Regions from separate parts of the Homo sapiens genome. Here regions 1, 3, 4, 5, 6 and 7 are each linked to region 2. Evidence: fine-mapped expression QTL. A gene starts in region 2. Each other region holds a variant in brackets. All regions are shown on one strand. Distances are from middle to middle.

The links.
Region 1: its variant is fine-mapped to the expression of CYBRD1 in whole blood (INTERVAL, PIP 0.96).
Region 3: its variant is fine-mapped to the expression of CYBRD1 in whole blood (TOPMed, PIP above 0.99).
Region 4: its variant is fine-mapped to the expression of CYBRD1 in hippocampus (GTEx, PIP 0.95).
Region 5: its variant is fine-mapped to the expression of CYBRD1 in whole blood (INTERVAL, PIP above 0.99).
Region 6: its variant is fine-mapped to the expression of CYBRD1 in whole blood (TOPMed, PIP 0.99).
Region 7: its variant is fine-mapped to the expression of CYBRD1 in whole blood (TOPMed, PIP above 0.99).

Annotation. Positions count from the first base shown.
Region 1 is chr2:171,566,846-171,570,914 of GRCh38, forward strand. No RefSeq gene overlaps it. Among named protein-coding and RNA genes, the nearest start is that of CYBRD1, 46 kb to the left of the region's middle. RefSeq lists a silencer at 1,062-1,233. The variant T/C (reference allele first, on the strand shown) is at 2,488.
Region 2 is chr2:171,520,405-171,524,473 of GRCh38, forward strand. CYBRD1 (cytochrome b reductase 1) reads left to right here and starts at 2,070. Exons shown (of 4, transcript NM_024843.4): 1 at 2,070-2,334. The coding sequence starts at 2,142. RefSeq lists an enhancer at 2,159-2,268 and silencers at 2,379-2,488, 2,639-2,708.
Region 3 is chr2:171,632,330-171,636,398 of GRCh38, forward strand. No RefSeq gene overlaps it. Among named protein-coding and RNA genes, the nearest start is that of DYNC1I2, 53 kb to the right of the region's middle. The variant G/A (reference allele first, on the strand shown) is at 1,899.
Region 4 is chr2:172,156,416-172,160,484 of GRCh38, forward strand. No RefSeq gene overlaps it. Among named protein-coding and RNA genes, the nearest start is that of DLX2-DT, 55 kb to the left of the region's middle. The variant T/C (reference allele first, on the strand shown) is at 2,203.
Region 5 is chr2:171,707,795-171,711,863 of GRCh38, forward strand. The region is part of intron 5 of DYNC1I2 (dynein cytoplasmic 1 intermediate chain 2); the gene reads left to right. Among named protein-coding and RNA genes, the nearest start is that of DYNC1I2, 22 kb to the left of the region's middle. The variant GTATA/G (reference allele first, on the strand shown) is at 2,321.
Region 6 is chr2:171,394,708-171,398,776 of GRCh38, forward strand. All of the region lies in intron 1 of METTL8 (methyltransferase 8, tRNA N3-cytidine), which reads right to left. Among named protein-coding and RNA genes, the nearest start is that of METTL8, 37 kb to the right of the region's middle. The variant C/T (reference allele first, on the strand shown) is at 2,416.
Region 7 is chr2:171,412,003-171,416,071 of GRCh38, forward strand. The region is part of intron 1 of METTL8 (methyltransferase 8, tRNA N3-cytidine); the gene reads right to left. Among named protein-coding and RNA genes, the nearest start is that of METTL8, 20 kb to the right of the region's middle. RefSeq lists an enhancer at 4,045-4,069. The variant G/A (reference allele first, on the strand shown) is at 2,370.

The DNA.
Region 1 (4,069 bases), 46 kb after region 2:
GATAGAACCCTATTCTCCTCTCCTTAAACATGGGCCAGGCTTAGTGACTCACTTGTAAAGAATCGAAGACAAGACTGGTGCAGTGGCTCGTGTCTGTAATCCCAGCGCTTTGGGAGGCCAAGTTTGAAGCCAGGAGTTCAAGACAAGCTTGGCCAACATAGCAAGACCCCATCTCTACTAATAAAATAAAAATTAACCAGGCATGGTGGCACACACCTGTAGTCCCAGCTACTCAGGAGGCTTAGGTGGGAAGATCGCTTGAGCCCAGGAATTCAAGACTGCACTGAGCTATGATCTGCCACTTGCACTCTAGCCTATGCAACAGAGCAAGACCCCATCTCTAAAACAAACAAACAAAACAGGAAGGCAGCAGACAATACTATGCGACTTCAGGGACTAGGTTTCCTAGCTCGCTGTCTCTCTCTCTCTCTCTCTCTCTCTCTCTCTCGTGTGCAATGCTTGCTCTGGGAACCCAACCACCTTGTCATTTGATGGGGAAATCAAACACTACATGTGTATTAATCCATTTTCACATGCTATAAATAAATATTTGAGAGTGGGTAATTTATAAAGGAAAGAGTTTTAATTGACTCACAATTCACACGACTGGGGAGGCCTCAGGAAACTTGCAATCATGGCAGAAGGGGAAGCAAACGCGTCCTTCCTCACATGGCAGCAGGAGAGAGAAGTGCCAAGCAAAGTGGAGAAAAGCCCCTTATAAAACCATCAGATCTCATGAGAACTCACTCACTATCATGAGAACAGCATGGGGGGAAACCAACCCCATGAGCCAATCACCTCCCTCCCTCAACATATGGGGATTACAGGTCCCTCCCTCCACACATAGGGATTACAATTTGACATGAGGTTTGGATGGGGACAAAGAGCCAAACCCGATCAACATGGAAAAGTCACGTGTTGATATTTGGACAACAGTTCTGCATGAGCTCCCAGCTAACAGCCAACATCAGCCAACCGGACACGTGAATGAGTGAGTTTTGAGTTTATTCTAGCCCCCAATCTTTGAACCACCCCAGCTGACACTGAGTTGAGCAGAGATAAACCGTCCCCTCTAAGTTCTTTCCAAATTTTTTTTTTTTGTTTTTGGAGACGAAGTCTTGCTCTGTCGCCCAAGCTGGAGTGCAGTGGCACAATCTCACCACACTGCAACCTCTGCCTCCTGGGTTCAATCTTCACCGGGAAGCCATTTCATTTGCCGTATGAAGAAGCTAGAAAGGAGAAACTTTTATTTTCAAACCCAGCAATTCCTGGCCCCTCTATATTTCACAGTTCTCTTTCACTTCTCTCTTTCTCTTGAAGTTTACTATACTCAGTGAGAAAAACCAGGCAGCTTCTTCAACACTTTTCCCAAAAATCTCCTTAGATAGACGGTTCAGTTAACTTGGTATATTTTCTATTCTCCATGTTACCACAGGTGACAGTGTTGCTAAACTTTTTGCTGCTATATGACAGCTCTCAGTAACATTTTCCTCGCTTTCCCATAAGCCCTAACCAATAACTTCTTCAAGAACCATGAGGTTTCCACTAACAGTCTCTTGAAGACTCTCAAATTCTGCCTGCCACCCAGTCCTGAAGCCATTGCCACACGTTAGCAGTTTTTGCTGTGCTACCAAACTCTGTTCCAGTTATCTATTGCTGCATAACAAACCACCCCAAAATTTAATAAATTAAAACAGTAACAACATCTATTTATTCATGAATCTACAATTTGAGGGCTGGGTGAGGTGGCTTTCGCCTATAATCCCAGCACTTTGGGAGGCTGAGGTGGGTGGATCACCTGAGATCAGGAGTTCGAGACCAGCCTGGCCAACATGGAGAAACCCTGTTCCTACTAACAAAAATTAGCCAGGTGTGGTGGTGTGCACCTGTAGTACCAGCTACTCGGGAGGCTGAGGTAGGAGAATCGCTTGAACCCGGGAGGTGGAGGTTGCAATGAGAGGAGGTAGCACCACTGCACTCCAGCCTAGGTGACAGAATGAGACCCTGTCTCGGGAAAAAAAAAAATAAAGAAAAATATGGTTCAAAAATAAAGTGAGTTTATTTTTGGGCATGACTATAAGACTCTTTGCTGAGACCTCAGAAAGTCCATAAGGTGTTGTTTCATAGGCCCTTTCAAGCAGACAAAAGGCCTAGCAACTTTTTTGTTTGTTTGTTTGTTCCTTCTTTATTTGTTTTCAACACACCATTGCTGGCTTGAAAGGCCTACAGATCTCAAGGGAATTATTGGACCGCAGCTTTAGGAGAAGGGAGAGAAGGGCTAAAGGAGATTTATTGGTATGGGTTTTGCCTAATGGAGTTAGTTATAAATTGATTAATAAGAAGACTATATATACATATTTTAAAAGAATTAGAATTAGCTTGGAGTGAAAGGGACATTCAGGCCTTTGGATTCCAGGCTTCTAAGAGCAGGAAGCAATCTAAAAAGACTGTCACTCAGCTGCAAACATGGGCTACTTTTTTTTTTTC[T/C]TTTTTTTGTTTTTTTGAGATGGAGTTTCGCTCTTGTTGCCCAGGCTGGAGTGGCATGGTGTGATCTCGGCACACCTGCAACCTCCACCTCCCAGGTTCAAGCGAGATTCTCCTACCTCAGCCTCCCGAGTAGCTGGGACTACAGGTACGCGCCACCACACCTGGCTAATTTTGTATTTTTAGCAGAGACAGGGTTTCTCCATGTTGGTTATGCTGGTCTGGAACTCCAGACCCCAGGTGATCTGCCCACCTAGGCCTCCCAAAGTGCTGGGATTACAGATGTGAGCCATTGCACCCAGCCCAACATGGGCTACTTTTAATGGAAAAGAAAGAATGGCTCAGAAGGTGGGACCGAGAGTGCAGTGGGTGGAGCCAAAAGCAAGGTGGACAACTTCCAGGTGTAGGACCAAGCCCTATCAAGGAACTGGCAACATACGCTCAGCTGGATTTCAGAATCGCTGTGCGCCAGTGGCTGCTGTGTGCCTCCCATTTCCCCCCTTTTTGAACAGAAGCGTCTGCAGCGATTATCCTGTGCTTGCTCCACTATTGTACAATATATTGGGTGCAGTGAGCAGAGAGGCAGCTTGTCCTTTGATTCCCAAGTCTTCAGGTGGAGAGGAACTGCACTGCAGGGGCTCTACTCCAGGAACAGCACCCAAGGAGCCTCAGCCACTCCTGCACCTGATTTATATGTCAAGATCATGGACCTTGAGCCCCAGCCTGATGCTACAGGAGATACAATGTTTAAGGGGTTTAGGGCAGGGGAGTGAGTCTACTTTGCATGTAGGGGAAAATGTAGGTAATGTATGTCCAACGGGCAAATTGTGATGATTTTAAAATATGTCCACAAATTCTATGATATTCTTCTCAGCAGAAGGTAGAGCCTAATTCCCCTTCCCTTGAATCGTGGCTGGCCTCAGCAACTAACTTTTAACCCATAAAATATGGCAGAAGTGAATCTGTAAGATTTCTCCGAGGAGGTCACCAAAGGGGACACAGCTTTTGCCTTCTTCTCTTCTCTCTGGGGATGTTTACCTTCGGAACCCAGCCAGCACTGTGTGAAAAAGCCAAGGAGCCCCATGGAAAGGTCAAGTGGAGGGGCTGTGGCCATAGGCCCTGCTGAGCTCCCAGCACCAACTAGCTGACCTGTGAGATTTCAGATGATTCCAGCCACCAGCCTCAAATCACCCCTGCTGATGCCAAGAGAAGCAAAGACAAACTGTCCTTCTCAAGCCCTGCCCAAATTACAAATTAATGAGCAAAATAAATGCAGTCATTATGTTAAGGAACAAAGTTTAGAGTGATTTGTTATGCAGCAACAGGTAACCAGATATTGATATGCAAATGCCTACTCAGAATATCCACATTATCGGTCAGGTACAGTGGCTGATACCTATAATCCCAGCACTTCAGGAAACTGAGATGGGATCGTTTGAGACCAAGACCAGCCTCAGCAACACAGTGAGATCCCATCTCTATAAAAATTAAAAAATTAGCAGGGTGCAGTGGCACATACCTGTGGTTCCAGCCACTTGGGAGGTTGAGGTGGGAGGATTGCTGAGCCGAGGTGGTTGAGGTTGCA
Region 2 (4,069 bases):
TGTCCAGTGGAGAAGGGTGAGGATAATGTTGGAAAGAGGGCAGGGAGCAAGCTTCACTTCATCAAGGAGGGGCTTTGGTTCAAATTGGTTTGGGTGGGCGGGCACTTTGAAAATCCATTTGTCACACTAAACGGCAAGTCCAGGTCCAGGAGGTTCCTGTCTTCCCTCTCTCAAGAGCAAACTGCAAGTAGTTTCATTGCAGGATAAGGCCAAGCCCACCGCTGCCCATGCTGTTTTTGTTTTGTTTCCAGACAGAGTCTAGCTGTCACCAGGCTGCAGTGCAGTGGTGCGATCATACCTCTCCTGAGCTCAAGTGATTCTCTTGCCTCCACCTCCCAAAGCCCTGGGATTACAGCTGTGAGACACCTCATGGGGACCCGGTTTACTGGGTTTTTTTTGTTTTTTGTTTTTTGTTTTTTTTTGAGACAGAGTCTCACTTTGTCACCCAAGCTGAAGTGCAGTGGTGCAACCTCAGCTCACTGCAGCCTCGACCTTCTGGGCTCAAGTGATCCTCCTTCCTCAGTCCCCCAAGTAGCTGGGGCTACAGGTGCATGCATTTGTATTTTCAGTAGAGACAGGGTTTCACCTTGTTGCCCAGGCTGTTCTCAAACTCCTGGACTCAAGTGATCTGCCCGCCTTAGCCTCCCAAAGTGCTAAGATTACAGGTGTGAGGCACTGCGCCTGGCCTTTACTGTTAACTTAAAACAAAAAATTATAAATTTGAAAAAAGAGGAGACTTTATTTCTTATAAAAGGTTATAGCCTGCAAGGAGGCCATTCCATAGGCTGATAAACATAGCCTCTGGCCTAAGACCAGAGACAGGCACTTGGAAGGCAGAGGGGTTGGGGTAGGAGCTTTATGCTGAACAGTTTGGCCAAACATACATACGTAACAGGTTACAGGAGGAGCTATGAATATTAATGGAGGTGGTCCTTACACATGCATATTGAACAAACATGCATGTAACATGTTCTCTTTGGGGTGGAGACTTAACATTTAATTGTATTACTTCAAATACATTTAAATGTATTACTTCAAACCTACACTTCAAAAGGTCTTTTCAGGACGTGAATGCATACAAGTGCACAATCCCTGTACACTGGCCAGAACCGGTCCATGGTCGGTCTTCTTATCATGAAAAAGTTCCTGAAATCAGCCCAGTGAAAGCTGTAGTTCTGGCTGGTGCAACAGGGGTTCAGCTGGTCAGCATCTGTGAACTGATTAAGTTGTAATTGTTTTAATATTGCTTATCTCAAGCCAGTGCTTGTTTAGCCTCTAGAGGAAAAGAAAACCTTTGTGGCAGTTAGACCATAGTTTATTTCTTAAGTGTAGGAGTGTGTGACTTAGGTCCTTTTTATAATTTGATGTCTTATTGCTACAAAGAGTCTGTTCTGTCCGCCTTATGATTTCTATTTTAAACATTAATGCTAGTCAGCTGTTGAGTCTAAATTCCAAAATGGAGGGGGTAGACTTCCCTTCCGGCTGTAGCTAGAAACTCAGCTTTAAGGTTTTTCTGGGGTCTGCTTGGCCAAGGAGGTCCATTCAGTCAGTGAGGGGCTTAGGATTTTATTTTTAGTTTACACCACCTTACAGGTTCCTCCTTAACACCCTTTGATGTCAGAGACAGCCAATTCTCCAGCACTGTGGCTAAGGAGGCTTCGTTAGTAGTTAAAAGCACACACATAACCCTACCCAACGGATCCCTCTCTTCTCTTAACCAAGAGGGCGCACCACTGCCCTACTCAACCTCCCCACAAATAAGGACGAGACACGGGAAGTGTTAAAAGCAAGTGGTGAGTATAAAATCCTCGGAATTTTCTCTTTGAGCAACTAACTAGGTCTGTTACTGAAGCCCTCTGCGAGCTTGGATGCTGGACGAGGGAGAGGGTGAGGCCACCAGGCAATGAGCGCCCTCGGCGGCCGCGTGATCCCGGGGGTGGGGCCCATTTCTGAGTTGGGGCCAGCTCCCCACCCCCAAGAGGCCCCACATTCCGGGCCAGCAGCCCAGAAAGTCCCTCCCCGCAGGCGGAGACAGCCCCAAGAAGTCGACGCCCCGGTCCCGCCGCCCGGCCACTACCCAGAGGGCTGCCGCCGCCTCTCCAAGTTCTTGTGGCCCCCGCGGTGCGGAGTATGGGGCGCTGATGGCCATGGAGGGCTACTGGCGCTTCCTGGCGCTGCTGGGGTCGGCACTGCTCGTCGGCTTCCTGTCGGTGATCTTCGCCCTCGTCTGGGTCCTCCACTACCGAGAGGGGCTTGGCTGGGATGGGAGCGCACTAGAGTTTAACTGGCACCCAGTGCTCATGGTCACCGGCTTCGTCTTCATCCAGGGCATCGGTACTGGCACCTCCTGGGGGGGTGCGGGGAGGAAAGCGGGGAGAACGGCGGGGGCAGAGGGTCCTCCGTGAAGCCCCTTCCAGCTGAGGAAGTGCTGGAGGATCGCGGGGCCCGGAGGAGTGCGGTGAGGAGCGCGCGGGAAGCCAAGTCGGCTGGGCGGGAGGGAGGCTGGCTGGCTCTGGGGCGGGACAGAGCTGCGGTTCAGGAGGATCGCCGCGAGCGCGGGGCCGGGGGTGCGCGGTGGAGACGCGCTGCTGGGGGCGGCGGAGCGGGGCCGGCCCCACTTGGTTAACTCTTTGCGGCGACTGGCTAGGACGCACTGGAGGGGCCTCCAAGACCCAGAAACTTGAGCCCGGGCGCGATGCCGGAGCGCCGCGCAGTCGGGCCGCTGCAGCCCACGCGCCCCGGAAAGTCGCCCCTGTGGACCGAGCCTGCGCGATCGGGGGCGCGGAAACACTTTCGCCTCAGCCTTTTGCTGAACTTGCTTCCAGGCTGCAGATGAGGAGGGGAAGGCAGCGGGGAAAAGATTGCCGGAGCGAGAATTTGCCCGTATTTGTAACATCCTCGGCCCTGGGTAAAGGGGCTGGCCAAGGGGGGCGAGTGAAGCATCCGCCCTGGGTTCCTCTCCTCCTAGAGTGTTAAACTCAGTCGAGTCCGGGAAGCTGCCAGGACTTCCAAGTGTGTTTCGCCGCCCTGCCCAGTCATTGGACGGTCTTGAGCCCGACTTGTTTATGTGGCAGAAGAGTGGCGAAAGTTCCCCCGCGGGGCTTCCTATTGGGCACTGGCCCAGCACTCCGGGTGGGAGATGCCCGGAGAGGGCCCGCGGCTGCCTGGCACCGAGGGATGCCTCTGCTCGGGATGCCCCCGGCGCAAGCTGCGTCCGTGTTTGGCCCGCGGCGAGCCAGCCCCGGGCCTGCATTCTCTGGGCTGAGGCTGGCGCGGGGGAGGGGCTCAGCAGTCGCTGGCAATGTTTGTTGTCATTGTGTAGTGCCTCTCAATGTCCTGACTGCTTCCTTCGGTTTGCCGTGTAGCTGGAGGAACCTCTAGCTTTTGGCGCAAACACCATTTATTTGTAACCACTTCCCCAAAGGCACGGCCTTCAGAAAGTAGTTAGAGAAAGGCAGCAAGGGGTGGAGTGGTGTTATGTCGCAGAAAATAATCGAGAGGAGTAGCAAGGGTTTGGAAAGATATGCCCACTGGCCGAAATCTCTAGCTTTGCCTGCGGGCAGGCTGCCTTTTCTTCACCAAATATTTAACTCCCCACAAACGAGTGTGCAAAAGAGTGCTGACCTCATTCCTAAAGAAAAGTGATTTTGGCTTTTGTTTTTGTTGGTTGTTTTAAACTTGTACTGCAGCTTTGGCAAGTGTGGCCAGCATTCTCCCACTCTGGAATGTAGTGGAAGGTGTTACTAACCCTCAGCATTCAAAGGCTTCCCTGGTGTGAGATCGGCATCAGGGTGTGAGATCGGCATCAGGGTGTGAGCACCACTGGGCACCTAAGGCATTTCGTTGCGTAACTCTCAGTTATTTTGCCACTATGCTTATAAGAAAAAAACATACTCAAGTTCCAAAGTAACTGTCAGAAGCACTCTTTCCTTCGTGGTGGAGCCCTTAAGTTTGGCCCCGAGCTGTCTACACCTTGTTTGCTCAAAGAGTAGAGCCAGTCTCCTCTTCTACCCAACTCTTCAGAGCAGCTTCTAATACCAAAAAGCTTTCTGGAGGTCTTGGAATATCT
Region 3 (4,069 bases), 110 kb after region 2:
TGCACACCTGTAATCCCAGCTACTTGGGAGGCTGAGGCAGGAGAATTGCTTGAACTGGCGAGGCAGATGTTGAACCCAAGAGGCGGAGGTTGAAGTGAGCTGAGGTTGCGCCATTAAACTCCAGCCTGGATGACAGAATGAGAATCAGAAGGAAGGAAGGAAGGAAGAAAGGAAGGAAGGAAGGAAGGTTGGTCTTCAGAAAAAGTATGGGCTGCAGATCCTACCGTGGCTTGTGTCTCTTTTTCCTGGGTGTGTCCTCAACTTCAGCAAAATAAACCTCTAAGCTGATTGAGACCTGTCTCAGATACTTTTTGGTTTATACCATCAATAAATAGTTATAAATATTTTCCCCATTAACATCTAGTTTTGGGTGTTGAGGCAAGTTTTCCAGTAAAATTAACACTGGAAGAAGTGTTAGAGTAAAATGTTATAATTCTTTAGATGATTCTATCTTGTTTTGTATCCAAACCTTGAATCTCAATATTATTAAAAGTGAATTTTCTGGCTGGGCATGGTAGCTCATGCCTATAATCCCAGCACTTTGGGAGGCCAAGGTGGGAAGATTGCTTAAAGCCAGGGGTTCAAGACCAACCTGGGCAACACAGCAAGACCACATCTCCAATAAAAATTAAAAATATTATCTGGGTGTGATGGTGCACACCTGTAGTCCTAGCTACTCAGGAGGCTGATGTGGGAGGATCTCTTGAGCCTAGGAGACTGAGGCTGCAATGAGCTGTGATTGCACCACTGCACTACATACAGCCCAGGTGACAGAGTGAGATTGTCTCAAAAAAAAGTGAATTTTCTTAATATCATGATAACAAAATAACAAATATGCTTTTCACTCCAGCAAACACCCAACACCCTGACCAATTTAATATAATTGGTAACCATAATGTCTGAAGAACTTCAGTGACTTTCCCTCTTCCTTACATCTCATTGTACATTTACCAAGCTCTCTTTGGGCCCTCAAAAATAAAATTCTTGAGATTCATTTCATCTGTGAGATCCTGTCACAGTTACATTAAATGACAAGAGATTCATTTGTTTGTTTTTGGAATCTGAATGGTCTCCAAATTTCTTTAGGGCTCATTCAAACTTGAAAAGTAGTCCTAGGCCACAAACATAGAACCCAGAAGAAATCTGGGACTGAAAAGGGCAAATTGCATCATGACCTCAGATTTTTCCAAATTGAAATTATTTGCATGAATATTATCTGATACACAAACTTCACATCCATTCAATTCTTATTCCCTGACTACCCAGCCTCACCCCAGCTGTTCACCATAGTCTGCACCTGCAGGCCCAACACCCTTTAAGGACCCCTCAGATTTCAGAATAAGGAATTGCATATGGTGTGACTCAAGGAAATCTCCACTAGCAAGTAAAGTTTATAAGTGATTCCTTCCTTCCTTCCTTCCTTTTCTTTGCCTTTTCCTCTCTTCCACCCTTCTCCCTCCTCTTCCTTCCTCTCTCTCTTTCTCTTTCTTTCCCCCTTCCTCCTTCCCTCTCCCTCTCTGTCCCCTTTGTCCTTTCCCTCCTGTCTCCTTTTGGAATGATTTTAGCATTCTAGGTCTCCATGAGAACTTCAGGCATTGGCTTCCTTAATCTGAAATCTTGCCAACATGTACTAATTTCTGGATTTCCAATAACCTAGTCTCCCCAAATTAGGAAACTGACTCCAGTCAAAATCAATAAATACCATTGACTTGATCTGGTTTTGATTTGGTTCTTGTCACTTATAATCCTGCATTTCTTAACTAATACAGGAACACTCTCTCATGTTTCTTGCTAATCACCATTTTTCCAAGGCTTGGTTCAGTTTGTAATATCCCTCAAATCATTTTAGCACCTCCTGATTTACAACCTGGGTTCCTAAATACTTTTGAATTTTTTAA[G/A]TCACCCATAAAAGAAGCCACCACTCAGCTGAGTACAGTGGTGTGCACCTGTAGTCCCTCCCAGCTACTTGGAAGGCTAAGGCAGGAGGACCCCTTGAGGCCAAAAGTTTGAGGCTACAGTTCTTATGATCATATCTTTGAATAGCCATTGCATTTCTGTATTCCAGCCTAGGCAAGATAGCAAAATCTTCTCTAAAATAAAAAAAAAGAATCCCCTCACTTCTAATGAATGGGCAGTGAGTAGGTCATGCATAGGATTGTGCTCTTCTTTCTTACCACTGCTTATTGGGCCAGAAACCTGATCTGACAGAGGCCAGTCAACTAGTCAATCCACAGATATTAATTAGGATATTGCACTGAGACCATGGTGCAGTTGGAACCAAGAGCAAGATGAAAAAGCAGAGGATAAGTAGTTAGCAGAAAAAGAATGCAGCAGAGGTGGAGAAAAAAATAGTTTGTTCCAAGAACTTTATACTTATTATTTCTCTCTTGGAGATGTCAATGCTATGGATATACCTCAACAGAAACAACAAACTTTCAAAGGCACTGTAGATTTCCATAAACAGTGTATAGCAATTTATCCTATGATTTACATAAGAAAATGTTCAAAGGTTTAGCTACAAGTTTTTTTTTGCCATGTGTTATCTATAATAGAAAAATATTAAATATGTTAAATCTAAGAAAAATTCCCTAAGTAAGTTATGCTGCATCCATCTAATGGAATTTTTTTTTTTTTTTTTTTTGAAGACACAGTCTTCCTCTGTCACTCAGGCTGGCGTGCAGTGGTGCAATCTCAGCTCACTGCAACCTCCACCTCCCAAGTTTAAGCAATTCTCATGTCTCAGCCTCTGGAGTAGCTGGAATTACAGGTACACACCACCCCGCCCAGCTAATTTTTTGTATTTTTAGTAGAGATGGCATTTCGCTATGTTGGCCAGGCTGGTCTCAAACTCCTGGCTTCAAGTGATCCGCCTGCCTCAGCCCTCCCAAAGTTCTAGGATTGCATGCATGAGCCACCATGTCTAGCCCCATCTAATGGAATATTAAACTCGCATTTTAAAAATATTCTATATAGGCCAGGCATGGTGGCCTATACCTGTAATTCCCGCAGTTTGGGAAGCTGAGGCAGGTGGATCACCTGAGGTCAGGAGTTTGAGACTAACCTGACCACCAAGGTAAAACCTCATCTCTACTAAAAATACAAAATTAGCTAGGCGTGGTGGTGCATGCCTGTAATCCCAGCTACTTGTGAGGCTGAGGAAGGACAATCACTTGAACCTAGGGGGCGGAGCTTGCAGTGAGCCGAGATCATGCTATTGCACTCCAGCCTGGTCAACAAGAGCAAAACTCTGTCTCAAAAAAAATATTCCATATATATATAATTGTTATCATGGAGTGATCTCTAAGCTACACTATTAACTAAAAAGAGCTTGCTATAAGCAATATGCATATAAAATACCATTTAAATAAAAAAAGTGTTTGTGTTTGTAGAGAAAGACTTCAAAGCATTGTTACTAAAACACACTTATTGCTTCTGGGCCAAAAGAAATGTGAATAAATAACTTTTACTTTTTTATTCACGTTTTTCTTAGTTGCTTGAATTATCTACATGATTATGTGTGAACTTTATAAGGATTTTAAAAACCACAATAATATGTTCTGTTATTTAGTTTTTAAAAATCTCTGGATTTTAGATCATTATTATTCTGTGGTCCTTTTTTTTTTTTTTTTTTTGAGACAGAGTCTCACTTTGTCGCCAAGCTACAGTGCAGTGGCACAATCTCCGTTCACTGCAAACTCTGCCTCCCTGGTTCAAGCAATTCTCCTGCCTCAGCCTCCCGAGTAGCTGGGATTACAGGCACACACCACCACACCCAGCTAATTTTTGTATTTTTAGTAGAGACAGGGTTTCACCGTGTTGGCCAGGATAGTCTTAATCTCCTGACCTCGTGATCTGCCCACCTCAGCCTCCCAGTGTTGTTTGTTTTTTATTATATAAATTTAAGTGTATAATATGATATTTTGATATACACATACATAGTAAAATAATTACTACAAGTAAGCAATTTAACATATCCATCATCTCATTTAGTTACTTTTGTGGTTGGGGGAGGATCACCTAAATCTACTGTCTTCGAAAAATGTTAGTATACTATATCAATATGGTTTGG
Region 4 (4,069 bases), 640 kb after region 2:
GACAAGTCAGTTCCCTTGTTCATCTTCATAGGAAACTCGGTAAAATAATTGTTTATACAGTCGGCCCTCCATCTCTGTGGGTTCCACATCCATGGCTTCCACCAGCTTAAACCAAATTTATCTTCACAAGGCTCCCCCTAGAAGAGAGGAAATTCCACAGCTTTGATGTGATGTGAAATGTGATCTCAAAATGATCATTTTCTAATATTATCATTCCTTTCACATTTATTAGTTGACATTTCTATCAGATCTCTCTTTTTCCCTCTTTCTTTTGAGTATCACCATGGACTGTGGATTTTTTTAGGCAATTCATTGTGTTATCATCCATTACTATCATTGTTCTTTTATTCTATTTGCTGCTCCAGTTCTTCCAAGTTAGGGTAGCAGGAGCTCTTTCAAGCTGGTTCCTGTAATTTTTTGACATGTCTTGGTTGGTCTTTGAGCACTTCATTGCTTTCTGGTCCAACAAAATGTCCCAGGCTCACTTTTTCTCCATTCCAGACCTGGAATGAGGATTTCATCAAAGGATTCTTAGGGGGACTGACATTTATAAACCATGGCTCAGGTGCTAGTGCATTGCTACTGGGGGACATTCACGTTAAAATAAAATCAACTTAACGATAAATTGTAGTTACATGTTTTTTCTGAGATATATAAATAATCAACTTCTCTGATCTCAGAATTAGATAAATCAGGAATGAATAACCAAGGTCAATAATAAGAATTCTCAAAGAAGCCCCAAGAATTTTTTTTTTAAAGAAGTGTCTGAGGGGCCGGGCATGGTGGCTTACACCTGTAATCCTAGCACTCTGGGGGGCTGAGGTGGGCAGATCACAAAATCAGGAGCTGGAGACCAGCCCGGCCAACATGGCGGAACCCCATTTCTACTAAAAATACAAAACCCCATTTCTACTAAAAATACAAAAATTAGCCGGGCATGGTGGCAGATGCCTGTAATCCCAGCTACTCAGGAGGCTGAGGCAGGAGAATTGCTTGAACCTGGGAGGCGGAGGTTGCAGTGAGCCGAGATTGTGCCATTGCCCTCCAGCCTGGGTGGCAAGAGCAAGACTTCATCTCAAAAAAAATAAAAAATAAAAAATAAAAGAAGTGTCTGAGGGACACTTTCTTAGGGCTGCTGTAACAAAAAGCCACAAATTGGGTGGCTTAAAATAACAGAATTTTATTATCTCACAGTTCTGGAGGCTAGAGTCCAAAATCAAGGTGTTAGCACCCTCTAAAACCTGCAGTGGAGAATCCTTCCTAGCCCCTTCTAGTTTCTGGTGTTTGCTGGCAATGCTTGGCATTCTCTGACTTGGAAATGCATCACTCTAATCTCTGCTGCCATTGTCACATGGCTGTCTTCTTCCTGTGTGTCTGTGTCCCTGTGCTTCTCCTCTCTTATGAGGATACCAGTCATATTATATTAAGGACTCAGCCTATTCCATTATGAACTCATTGTAAAGCATGATTACACCTGCACAGACCGTATTTCCAATAATGTCACTTTCACAGGTACTGGGGTCAGGATTTCAACATATTTCTTTAGGGGATAAAATCCAACCCATAATAGACACCATAATTCAGGAGTTAGACATTCGAGAAGAGTTTAACTGGAGTATGGAAACATGAATTTTGTAGAAAGTCTGTCCTTTAAATCCTGACAAATGCTCTCCTTATAATTCCAAATTGGATGAAAAAAAGTGTCATACATAAGAAATATTTACACTACTTATTGTAATCAGTTTTCTATACTGGTTAGATAAGGATAAAAGAGAAATAGAAGAGGTATGGAAGACACTGGGAGACATATTGAAAGGACAGCAGGAGATAAGAGATTTAGGGATGACTGAGAGAGGGAATAGAGGGGAATTTAGAAGAAGAAAACGGGGAGCAGGATGCCTGTCTGAAGAACAGAAAGATCATTATCTGTCACCCATTCAGCTAGATTCAAACTGTATGACCTCACGCTCCATTCTGGCTCTTTACCTAATACTACATTTTTGACTTGTACCTCTTTGATAATAAGGCTGAATATTATTTTGTTTTGCTCTGTGGCACAAATGGATGGGGACTGAGTGATGTGCATACCTTTTGGTGTGATTACTCCAGGCGAGGGGTATCTGAGGGCTGAGGGTCTGTGAGTAAGACAGGAATGGAGTAATGGGGACAGATTTGAGCTGGGTGAGGCCACTGTCTAGGTCA[T/C]TAAGTCAAAGGGGTTCTCCTGAAACCGGAGGTGGGAGTGGCTTGAGGCACCAGTCCAAAGGCCAGTTGCCAAATTTGGTGATTATGGGGGAAGCAGAGCTTGTAGCCAGAGATGGATAAATAGCCCATAAATAACAGTATGGCAAGAGGATGGGCAGGTGTGTAGCTCCCTGTGGTCAGGAAAGGGGTATGCCCAGGACAGACAGACATGGGGAAGGCTCAACTGTGTGTCTTCCTTTGGGACCTCTCATCTGCCAAGCCCTGAAGCTGATGGAGTGGTGCCTCTTGGATGTGCTAGTGTGAAAGTCTTAGCTAGTGTAGGCCACTGCCTCCCCTGTCTCTTTCATCCCAGCCCATGTGCCTGAACCCAAGAGCCTCACTCTGACTGGGGTAACTGCTTGTTTCCTGGGTTACAGCATCCAGATCTCTCAGGGAAACTCAATAAACAATTATTACTGTGCACCAGGCACTGTTTGGGGGCACTGAAGATATATGGGGAACAAGACAGACAAGGGCTGTGTTCTCATGGAGCTGACATCCTAGTATACTTTGCTTTTGAAGCCTGAAGTGGAGGCCCACACTGGCACATTGAGGTCAGTTTACAAGAGTGCATTTAGTTTTGTTGTTGCTTTTGTAAAAGTTTTTTTAGGTGAAAGTTTTTGATAGATAATGCTTAAAATAATAGCTGCAGACTAGTCTCAGATACAGTTCTTAGCTTTTATGACATATTACCATAGATAAAATAATAGTTATAATAACATATATATATAATTTTATTTTGGTAAGAACTTTTAACGTGAGATCTATCCTCTTAACACATGTTTAAGAAATGTGTAACGCATTATTGTTGGTTATAGGTACAATGTAGTATAGCAGATCTCCAGAGCTTATTCATCTTACTTAACTGAACTTTTTGCCTATTGATTAATACATCCCCATTTTCCCTTCCCTACAGCCCCTGGTAACTACCATTCTAGTCTTTTATCTAACAAATTTGACTATTTTAGATTATCTCATCTAAGTGGGATCCTGCAATATTTTTCTTTCTGTGTCTGGCTTATTTCACTTAGCATAATGACAAAGTTCATCCGGTTGTCACACATTGCGGGATTCTTCTCTTTTTTGAAGCTGAATAGTATCACATTGCTCATATATACCACATTTTCTTTATCCACTCATCTGTTGATGAACATTAAGGTGGTTTGGTTGTTGGCTGTTGTGACTAGTGCTGTAATGAACATAAGAGTGCTAATATGTCTTTGAGATTCTGATCTCATTTTTTTCAGATATATACCCAGAAATGGATTGCTGGATCATCTGGTAATTCTATTTCTAGATTTTTGAGAAACCTCCATACTGTTTTCCATAGTGGCTGCACCATTTTATTTATTTATTTAGAGATGAGTTCTTGCTATATTGCCCAGGCTAGCCTCGAACTCCTGGGCTCAAGGGATCCTACCACCTCAGCAGTGGCTACATCATTTTTCATTTTCATGAACAGTGTTCAAGGATTCCAATTTCTCCACACCCTTGCCAACAGTTGTCTTTTTTTTTTTTTTAATAATGGCCATTCTGATAGGTGTGATGTGATACCTCATTGTGGTTTTGATTGGCATTTCCTTGATTATTTTGTGACCTAGACACTGGCCTCACCCCAGCTCAAATCTGGCCCCCATTACTCTACTCATGGTCTTACTCATGCACCCCAGCCCTCAGTGACAATGAGCATTTTTTCATATGCCTGTTGGTCATTTGTATATCTTCTTTGGAGAACTGTCTATTCAAGTTCTTAGCCTATTTTTAAATTGCATAATTACTTTTTGTGTTATTGAGTTGTAGGGGTTCCTTATATATTTTGAAGATTAAC
Region 5 (4,069 bases), 190 kb after region 2:
TGTTCTATTAAGTCATTAGTTCTGCTAATTAAGATAGAGAATAATAATGCATAAAATGTCAAGAGTAAGGAATAACTGCTAAGGACAACATTGAGAATGTTTACTGTCAAGCATTCCTGAACTTGCATCTTCCTTGTAAAATTACATTTCGTGTTTGTTTTAGGATCCTGCATACATGTTGGGACTTGCTTTTCAAAAGTTCAGTAAGATTTCAGCTTTCTTTCAAAGATCATATTGGGAAAAGTATTACTACTTATTCCTCTTTGTCTCTCTCACACACACACACACACACACACACAAAATAGTGAGTATTAAATGTACTTTTTGACTTCTGAAATGAAATTAAACATAGGTAGTCAAAATCCACAGCTGATTAAGAATGCTTATTTTGGGCCAGGAAGTTGCATGTCCTCACCAAGAAAATCTCTTAACACACCTTTTAATAAGACATAAGCTGTTAGAAGTTTTAAGCTTTTTATGCCTGAGTCCCTCTAGTTGAAGTTACAAACCAGTAATAAATATCTAAAAGACAGGGCAAGAAAAAAAAAGCAAGGTGGCTGGATGATCTGTAAACTCAATACTTCAATCAGCTCTTGAATAATCAGGTTATCATTAACAATTAAAAGGCACATAAAGCTTGCCAGCTTGAATTTGAGAAGTGCTTTCCAAATAGAACCAAAATCACAAATCTAAGCTATACTATCTTTGGAGGAAAATGACATAACTCTTTCATTTAAGGAAAATCAAAATTTTCTTTTTAGAAATAATGTTATTACCTTATAAAATAGTATGCATTACAGAATAAAGACAATTTGTCTAGTGTAAATTCATTTTTATAGGGTTAAAATTTTTTTTCATATTTTGTGCTTCTATATTTTTATACAAATATGTCATTATTCCTTTATTTTTTATTTTTTTTGCAGACAGGGTCTCTGTCACCCAGACTGGAGGGCAGTGGCGCAATCTTGGCTCACTGCAACCTCTGCCTCCTGGGCTCAAACGATCCTCCCACATCAGCCTCCCGAGTAGCTGGGACTGCAGGCACGCACCATCATGCCTGGCTAATTTTTGTATTTTTTATAGAGACAGGGTTTTGCCATATTGCCCAGGCTGGACTCGAATTCCCAGACTCAAGTGATCCACCCACCTTGGCCTCCGAACGTGCTGGGATTATAGGCATGAGCCACTGCACCCAGCCACTATTCCTTTAGACAATTAATAATCAACTGGCATTTTTAAGTGAAAGCGTTTTTTTTTCCCTTCTACAACATTACCATAGTAAAAATGTTTCCCAAGATTAAAAATTACTATATTTATTAAATGTCTTTATTTGATATTATACATTATTTTTATGTAGATACTATACTGTGTACATTATGACTCATCGTTCCTGATTTTGAATAGTAGATTATTTTAATTCAGTGTCAGCAAGTTTGCTTTCAAAAGTACTTTGACACTTAAGTTTTTTAAATTAATGTGAATTAAAACATGTCCCCATGAGTTTTATGGACAACCCAGAGATTATTAGAGACCTTTTAGAATATTGTAAATTAATACAGGGAGTAATAATGGTAAGAAAAATATTTATTCATGTATAGAACAAATATTAAGTTACCAACTTTATTAAAATACTATGGTTTACCACAGAAGATAAAACATTCATGGTCCTTGCTTTCATAGAATTTACATTGTAGTGATTACATCATTAATTTAAAGATACTGTTGACTTTATTGGAAAGCCCTAAGGGTAGTGTGCTATGTTTAGTGTGAAGCATAGTTTTTTTAATGATAAATTGTAAAACACAAAAACAAATAGTTAATATTTTTTAAAGTATTTGTTCTTGTTAGATAATGAATACAAAATTGGTTTCTTGTGAGTTTAACGGAGAGAAAAATCCTCTTTTTGAGTGAGGTGACCTTACATCTTTCTTTTTTTCTTTGAGATGGCATTTCCTTCTTGTTGCCCAGGCTGGAGTGCAGTGGCACGATCTTGGCTCACTGCAACCTCCACCTCCCACGTTCAAGCGATTCTCCTGCCTCAGCCTCCCAAGTAACTGGGATTACAAGCATGCACAACCGCGCCCAGCTAATTTTGTATTTTTAGTAAAGACAGGGTTTCACCATGTTGGCCAGGCTGGTCTCGAACTCCTGACCTCAGGTGATCCACCCACCTCAGCCTCCCAAAGTGCTGGGGTAGCAGGCTTGAGCCACCGCACCCAGCCACATCTTTTTAACCTTAATATGTACGTTGTCTCCTTTGAGAGCACAGACTCACTTGGAAACATTAATTTTCAAGAGGGCTGAGTATATTCATTTTTAT[GTATA/G]TATACACACACACACACACACACACACACACACACACACACACACAGAGTAATAGAAAATGATGAATTCTACTAAATCATATCCAGCTTTCATAGAGGTAATTAATATTGTGATGGTGATATTGGCAGTGAAATAATGCATTTCTAAATATGTGACATTTAAAAAGAGTGCCCAGGTCTCAGAATGAAACCTAATGAACTCATATTGAGCAAACACGATGTTAATGTAAGAATAAAGACAATTAGAAGAAATATAATAGGAAAATACATGAAGACATGTGAGATGTGTGCATGCACCTGTACGTGCAACTTCAGTTGGCTAAGATGGTCTAAGATTAATACACTCAGGGAGTAGGAATAGATAAGACATTATAAAATATGCTGTCTAAACATGTTTGAATCACTCTAAGTGCCAAGAATTTCTTTTGGGACTGGTGGTAATTTATGAATAAATATAAAAGGTCGTGAGAAATAATCTCTCTCTAACTTTGCAGATTAGGAAGCTGCATTACATTTGTTATCTCAAAAATTTAGGAACAATTATTCAGTGGGGTAATCCAGGCCTCTTGTTCCTTTTTTCCTTTTTTTTTTTTTTCTTTTTTGAGTCAGAGTCTTGCTCTGTTGTCCGGGCTGGGGTGCAATGGCGTGATCTCGGCTCACTTCAATCTCTGCCTCCTGGGTTCAAGCAACTCTCCTGCCTCAGTCTCCCCAGTAGCTGGGATTGCAGGTGTGTGTCACCATACCCAGCTACTTTTTTTTTTTTTAATGCTTTTAAGTTCTAGGGTACATGTGCACAATGTGCAGGTTTGTTACATATGTATACTTGTGCCATGTTGGTGTGCTGCACTCATTAACTCATCATTTACATTAGGTATGTCTCCTAATGCTATCCCTCCCCCCTCCCCTCACCCCACGACAGGCCCCGGTATGTGATGTTCTCCTTCCTATGTCCAAGTGTTCTCATTGTTCAATTCCCACCTGTGAGTGAGAACATGCGGTGTTTGGTTTTTTGTCCTTGTGATAGTTTGCTGAGAATGATGGTTTCCAGCTACTTTTTGATTTTTAGTAGAGATGGGGTTTCATCGCGTTGGCCAGGCTGGTCTCGAACTCCTGACCTCAAGTGATCTGCCCACCTCGGCCTCCCAAAGTGCCAGGATGACCGGTGTGAGCCACCGTGCCTGGCCCATTTTTCCATTTTTGATCAGTTTACTTCTCAAGCTTTGTACTTGGAATTGTACTCTATGTGCCTGAAGATGCCCCTAATAAATGTAATAATGTACAGGTATGTCCAGTGCATTTTCAGTACTGGCTGTATTTTGAGGTACAGTGTTACTTGATTTTAGACTAAAATGACATCCTCAACAAGGAATTTTATGTCATTGATAACAGAGCTCTTACATAATGTAAATGACAGAACATTCCTTGGAGACCATCTCATAGAACTTTTGATTTAACAAAGCCTAAGCTTGTTGCTATTCATTGCTTAGTACAAAGTAGATCTTCACTGTGGCTGCTTCTTACATTGCATACACATAACCTTGTTTAAATTCCAAGATCTTTCTTTATATTTTTTAAATGAAGGATTTCTCTAGATTAATTCATTACTATTTTTCTTGATAAATTATATAGGCAGGTAGAGAAACCATTTGTTGTATTAAAACATTGTAGCAACTAAAACTAGTTATAAATTATAATGTCTTACATAAGTGAAAAATATATTTGACAAAAATGGTAATACTAAATGT
Region 6 (4,069 bases), 130 kb before region 2:
TAGGAGATAATATAAATACATAATAAAATTATATAAATGCCTTCTTACTTAAATTGCAAGCTTCTAGAGGCAGCACCAGGCTGCTCATGAATTGTTTGACTGATTACATAAAAATGGTATTTGTCTGACATAAATCTAATTGGATGGAAGTTACTTCATATTTTCCAGGGTGGATCCTAATTAAGATCCTTGCAGTGCGAAGGAAGTGATAGAAGAATGTGACAATGTACAGGTAGCTATCCAATTAAATTAACTACGATGATTAACAAATATGTGCTTTGTATTATTACTACCACGTTAGCCTAAGGTTTGCTGGTCATGGTTCAATTTTGTGGGAAAAGAAGGGCAGGGCCAGCCCCAAATAAAATTGTGGTAGAAAAAGTAGGTTTCTGCCACCAGAATGACCCAATCCCTTTATGTACCTTCTCTTAGCTCTCTTTTGGCATACTCTAATTTGAATACCAGTTTAACTCAGATAATTGCACAACAAAACTGTGTGAATAAGTAGTATTTTTATTTGAAACAACACAAAGAGGTACAGTTTAAAATATTCCATTCATCCAAAAGAAGGCAAGAAAGGAAGAACAGAGGAATGAAAAACAAATAGGACAAATAGAAAACAAATACCAAGATAGCATATGTAAACCCAACCATATCAATACTTACAATAAATATAAATGGGCTCCAATTAAAAAGCAGATTATTAACTTGGATTAAAAAAAGTAAGACCCAGCAATATACTGTTTATAAGGCAAGCACTTTAAATATAAAGAAACAAATAGATTAACGTAAAAAAAGGTATACTATGCAAACACTGCATAAGAAAGCTGGTGGGGCTATATTAATAGACAAAGTAGACTTCAATGAAAAGACTATTATAGAGATAAAGAGGGGCATTTAATAATGATAATAAGCCAATTCATCAAGACAACATAGCAGTCTTAACTATGCATGTACCTAATAACAAAGCTGTAAAATAAATAAAGCAAAAAGACAGAACTTTCTAAAAGGAGAACTTAACAAATTCACAGTAATACTTGGAGATTTTAACAACCCTTTTCCAGTAATAAATAGAAAAATAACCAGCGACAAGCTATCTAAAAATCAAAAAGGATAAAGAAGATTTGAACATTATTAACTTGACCTAGATGACATTTATAGAAAGAACATCATACAGCAATAGCAAGAATACACATTCTTTTCAAATGAACATGGAACATTCACCAAGGTAGACCATACGCTGGGCTATAAAACAAGTCTCAATAAATAGATAAATTTGGCTGGCCAGGCACAGTGGCTCATGCCTGTAATACCAGCACTTTGGGAGTCCGAGGCGGGCAGATCACCTGAGGTCAGGAGTTTGAGACCAGCCTGGCCAACATGGTGAAACCCCATCTCTACTAAAAATCCAAAAAAAAATTAGCTGGGTATGGTGGCGGGTGCCTATAATCAGCTGAGGCACAAGAATCACTTGAACCCAGGAGGCGGAGGTTGCAGTGAGCCGAGATTGTGCCACTGCACTCCAGCCTGGGTGACAGAGTGGGACTCTGTCTCAATGAATAAATAAATAAATAAATAAATAAATAAAAATAAATCCCAAAGTATTAAAATCATACAGAGTGTGCTTTTTGACTATAATAATATTAAATGTTAATATTTTGATGAATTAACTTGTATTAATAAATGTCCCTTCTTATCTCTGGTAACAGTCATTTTCTTGAGGTCTACTTTGTCTGATATTAATACAGCCCTACCAATTGTCTAATGTAATGTCATGTATGGCATGCTGTGTATCTTTTAAAAAAATTTTAGTCTATTTGTGTGCTTTTCTAATAGGCAGTGCTTTTCTAATAGGCAGCATATTGTCAATCCTTGCTTTTGTATCCAAATTCAAAATAATAATAAGATAGCTACAAAAATTTCCAAATGTTAAGGAATTAAGCAACACAGCTATAAATAACCTATGAGTAAAAGAACAAATCTGAAGAGAAATTAGAAAATATGTTGAACTGAATGATAACAAAATCTGAAAATATCAAAATGTATGGGATGCAACTAAAGCAGTGTATAGAGAGAAATTTATAGTTTTACATATTTTTATTACAAAAGAGAAAGATGTCAAATCAATAATCTCAGCTTCTATCTTTTTTTTTTTTTCTTTTTTGAGACAAGGTCTTGTTCTATCACCCAGACTAGAGTGCAATGGCACGATCATAGCTCATAGGCCTGCTTTGGCCTCCCAAGTAGCTGGTACTACAGGCATGTACCACCACACCTGGCTACTTTTTTTTTTTTTTTAAGAGAGGGTCTCCCTATGTTGCCCAGGCTAGTCTTGAACTCCTAGGCTCAAGGGATCCTCCCACCTCAGCCTCCCAAAGTGCTGGGATTACAGGCATCAGCCATCTTGCCTGGCCT[C/T]AGCTTCTATCTTCACAAGCTAGAAAAATAAGAATAAATTAGACCCAAAGTAAGTAGAAAGAAGGAAATAATAAAAAATAAAAACAGAAAGCAATGAAATAGAAAACAGGGCCAGGCATGGTAGTTCACGTCTGTAATCTCAGAGCTTTGGGAGGGAGGTCAAGGTGGGCAGATGGCTTGAGGCCAAGACTTTGAGACTAGCCTAGGCAAAATAGTGAGACCCTGTCTCTAAAAAAAAAAAAAAAAAAAAAAAAAAACAACATCAACAACAACAAAAAACTTCAAACAAACAAAATTAGCCAGTGCCTGTAGTCCCAGCTACTTGGGAGGCCAACGAGGGAGGATCACTTGAGTTCAGGAGTTCAAGGCTGCAGTGAACTATGATCATGCTATTGCACTGCATTCTGGGCGACAGAGCAAAACCCTGCCTCAAAAAAAAAAAAAAAAAAAAAAGAGAGAGAGAGAGGGAAGGAGGGAAAATGAGCAAAGCAGGGAAAAATCAAAGTCAAAAGTTAGTTCTTTGGAAAGATTAATAAAACTGATAAACTTCTGGCAAGACTGATATCAAACATGTGTTTCACAAAACACAAACTTCCAATAATAGGAATGAAAAATGAGATATCACCACAGACCTTACAGACATTGAAAAGCTAATACTGGGATATTATGGACAATTTTATTGCATTCATTAGATGGGACAAAGTCCTTGAAAACCATAACTTACCAATAATAACAAAATAACACAAGAGAAAATCTGAATAGCCCTAAATTTATTAATTACATTTGTAATTAAAATCAAAACAAACAGCACACCTAATAGGATGGCTGGTATTTAAAAACAGCAACAACAACCCAGAATATAACAAGTATTGGTGAGGATGTGGAGAAATTAGGAAATTGGAGCCCTTATTCATTGCTATTGGAACATAAAATGATACAGCAGCTATGAAAAAACATTATGGTGAATCCTCAGAAATTAAACATACAATTACCATATGATTCAGCAATTCTACTTCTGGGTATATACCCAAAAGAAGTGAAAGCAGAGACCAAAGAGATATTTGTACACCCATATTCATAGCAACATCATTCACAATAGACAAAAGGTAGAAGCAACCCACGTGTCCATTGAAGATAAATGGATAAACAAAATGTGATACATACATACATATATATGTACAATGGAACATTATCCAGCCTTAAAAAGAAAGGAAATTTTGACACATGGTACAACCATGGATGAATCTTAAAGATATTATGCTAAGTGAAATAAGCTAGTCATAAAAGGATAGATATTGTATGATTCCTCTTATATGAGGTTCCTAGAGTAGTCAAACCGATAGAGACAGGAAGTGGAGTGGTGTTTGGCAGAGGTTGGGGAAGGGGGAATGGGGAATTAAGTTTTTAATGGATAGGGGAGGGGCGAGAGGAAACGGGGAGACGTAGATCAAAGGATACAAAGTTGCAGATATGTAGGATGAACACGTCTACAGATCTAATGTACAATACGAGGACTACAGTTAATAATATTGTATTATATTTGGGACTTTTGCTGAAAGAGTAGATTTCAGGTACACTTGCCACACATACACACAAAGGTAACTATGTGAGAAGATACAATTGTTAATCTGCTTGCCTATGGCAACCACTTCAC
Region 7 (4,069 bases), 110 kb before region 2:
AGACACTTGAAACTGTTCATCACACTAATAATAAATGTCTCTTTAGGATTCTTTTGACTGCAAATAACAGAAGGCACTACTCAAAGTGGCTTAAATGATAAGGAAATAATATCTGTCATAACTGAAAGCCCAAAGATTGGGCAAGTTCCAGGTAAGGTTTCATCTGCTATTCTACAATGTCATCGAGGATCCAGGTTCCTGCCATTTCTCCATCCTGCTCTCCGCAGCATCACCTTCATCCTAAGGCTAAGTCCCTCTGTCAATTACAAAATGGCTGCAGCAGTCCCAAGCATCACACAGACATGGCAACATCCAGCAAAAGAAAAGGACCATCTCTTTCTGTGTCTCTTTTTAGGGAGGAGGAAACTTATCCACAACTTCCCAGCCAGACTTGCTCTCAGATTTCACTGGCCAGAATTTGGTCACAAACTATTCCCAAATCAATCTCTGGTAAGAGAATCTTAAACTAGAAGTTCTCAGAGTATGGTTCACGAATTCCTGGGGAACCCTACCCCCCTTTAGGCAGTCTTCAAAAGGCTAAAATTATTTTCATGATAATATCAACATATTATTTGCCTTAAAAAAAAAAAACACTGTAGTGCCATTTGCACCAATGGTGCACAGGCAATGTGGATAAAAGCATTAGCACCTTTGCCTAAATCAAAACAGTGGCATCAAACTATACAGAAGATCACTGTCTTCTTCACCAACTATGGACTCACAGAAAAAAAAAAAAGGCAGTTTCACGTAAGCATTTCCTTGATGAAGCAATAAAAATTGTTTTCACAGAGCATCATTTTAACTTTGGTATTTTCTCAAAAATAAATGAAGTAAGACTGCCAAGAAAACAACTGACACCATTTGTTGCCTTTGATAAAATTTAAGCTTTTAAGCAAAAATTAGAATTCTGGAAAACCTGTGTTCACCACTATAAGCCTAACAGCTTTCTAATTCTTAAACACTGTTCAGATGAGAACAAGATATTTTTGGCACTATAAAATGAAATGTGTCAACATTTGGAAGACCTATACAACTCAATGAGCCAGTATTTTCCAGATGACCAACATAAGATGATACAAAATCAAGCACGGGCTAAAGATCCAGTCAAAGTATAATACAAGACAGACCAATGGATTTTAATGTAGCAGAATATGAAAAATTCACTGACAAGGCTTCAAATTGTAATATTGCAATTAACCTTTAAGATACTACCACTTACTGGGATTTGGTGTAGTAGTAAAGTAGAATACCCATATTCATCTGAAGAGACAAAGCACTCCTCCCCTTTCTAACCACTTATAAAATATATCTGTGTGAGATCAGATTTCTTCACATATATCAACCAGAACAACATATCACAACAGACTTAATGCAGAAACAGATATAAGAATCCAGTCATCTCTTAGGTGAGACATTGAGATTTGCAAAAAATGTAAAACAATGCCATTCTTCTAATATTTTTCTTTTGGAAAATATTTTTTATAAAAATATGCCATAATAACATACAATGGGTTTATTAGTCTTATTTTTAAATCACTTAATAATGCAGTTTTTACAGGTGTTGTGATAAAAAAGATTTAATAAATATTTAAACAATTAATTTTTTCTTAGGTTACATTTCAAATGTAGTAAATATCCATAGCTACAAGCCACATAAACAAATGTTCTTTGGAGCCTTTATAATTTTTTAGTGTCTAGAGGTCCTGAGACCAAAAAGCTGGAGACTCGCTGCCTTAGATTAATTTTCTGGGTGATATGGATAGCGGAAAGCCCATCACACAGAAAACAGTAAAATAATCTTCTGTCATTTTGGCGAAGGTAAAAACACTGTGATAAATGGTGTGCAGGAACAGGCATTCTGGCAAACTGAGGGGGCACTGAACTGAGAGACCTTTCCTGAGGGGGCTTTGGTAATACATATGAAAATTTTAAAGAAAAAATTAGAAAGAAAATTTCGTTTCTAAAAATATATCCTATGGATATAATCAGAAGAATATATTAAGGATTTGTCATAGCATTATTTGTATATTACACTGAAAAACTACAATACAAATATTAATTTTTAGAAGACTGACTAAATTATTGTACATGCATAGAAAGGAAAATTATGTAGCTGCTTAAAAATGTTGCTAAAGCCAGGCACAGTGGCTCATCCCTGTAATTCCAGCCCTTTGAGAGGCCAAGGTGGGCGGATCACCTGAGGCTGGGAGTTTGAGACCAGCCTGACCAACGTGGAGAAACCCCATTTCTACTAAAAATACGAAATTAGCTGGGTGTGGTGGTACATGCCTGTAATCCCAGCTACTCGAGAGGCTGAGGCAGGAGAATTGCTTGAACCCGGGAGGCGGAGGATGCGGTGAGCTGAGATC[G/A]CACCACTGCACTCCAGCCTGGGCAACAAGAGCGAAACTCCGTCTCAAAAAAAAAAAAAAACATCTTGCTAAAGGCTGGCCCCAGTAGCTCACACCTGTAATCCCAGGACTTTGGGAGGCCAAGACAGGCAGATCATTTGAGGCCAGGAGTTAAAGACCAGACTGGGAAACATAGTGAGACCCCCATCTCTACAAAAAATTAAAAAATTAGCTGGGCATGGTGGTGTGTACCTGTGGTCCCAGCTTCTTGGGTGGCTGAGGCAGGAGGATGACTGGAATCTGGGAGGTTGAAACTGCAGTGAGCCATAATTGCACCACTGCACTCCAGCCTAGGTGACAGAGTGAGGCTCTGTTTCTGAAAAAAAAAAAAAAGGTTACTAAAACCCTAAATTTATTGGTATGTGATATGGTTTGGCTGTGTCTCCACCCAAATCTTATCTTGAATTGTAGCTCTCATAATTCCCACATGTTGCGGGAGGCATCTGGTGGGAGATAAATGAATCATGGGGGCGGTTTCTCCCATACTATTCTCGTGGTAGTGAATAAGTCTCACGAGATCTGATGGTTTTATAAGGGGAAACCCCTTTCACTTGGCTCACATTCTCTCTCTTGCCTGCTGCCATGTAAACTGTGCCTTTTGCCTTCTGCCATGATTGTGAGGCCTCCCCAGCCACATGAAACTGTGAGTCCATTAAACCTCTTTTTCTTTATAAATTACCCAGTCTGGGGTATGTCTTTATCAGCAGGATGAAAATGAACTAACATGGTATGAAAAGATGTCCATGATTTATTAGGTAGAAAAAAAAAGTCAGGTACAAGATAGTATTTATAGTACGGTCTCATCTTAAAAAATTAATGTCTATATACCAAGAAACATGCATATGCATAGGGAAAGTCTAGTAGAATTTATAGCAGTTGTCACTGATTGAAAGGCTCACAGATCTTCCTTGCATTTTCTTCTTAATATATCTCGAAATCTTTTTTTTTTTTTTTTTTTTTTTGACAGAGTCTCACTCTGTTGCCCAGGCTGGAGTGCAGTGGCGCGATCTTGGCTCACTGCAACCTCTGCCACCCGGGTTCAAGCAATTCTCTGCCTCAGCCTCCCAAGTAGCTGGGATTATAGGCCCCTGTCACCATGCCTGGCTAATTTTTGTATTTTTAGTACAGGTGGGGTTTCACCATGTTGGCCAGGCTGGTCTTGAACTCCTGACCTTGTGATCCACCCGCCTTGGCCTCCCAAAGTGCTGGGATTACAGGCATTAGCTACCACGCCTGGCCTAAAATATTCTTTTTTCTATGTAAACCCAAATTACCTTTATAATTAGAAAATATAAAAATATTTTAAAATCACTAAATATACAAATTCTATATAATACTCATGAGTAGAGGATCCACTCTAGGGAATAAAAGATGGTATAATAGGCAGTAGGTGACAGCAACACTAGAATGCTGGATTCTGGACCCAAATAGCCAAGGGTAAATGTCCAGAGAAGAGTTGCTTAAAAGACCTCTAATTGTCAGACTGGGTAAGGCAGATGATTATGGATGCTGATTAAGGTGGAGCAAAGAACCAGGAAGTAGAAAGAAATTATTAGAAAAGGAAAAGGGTAACAGGAGAATGTGGGAAACCAACAGCCCATGCTAGAATGCTGAATTCCAGTTATCTAGAAACCTCCTATTCATCAACTATGGCAGGCACT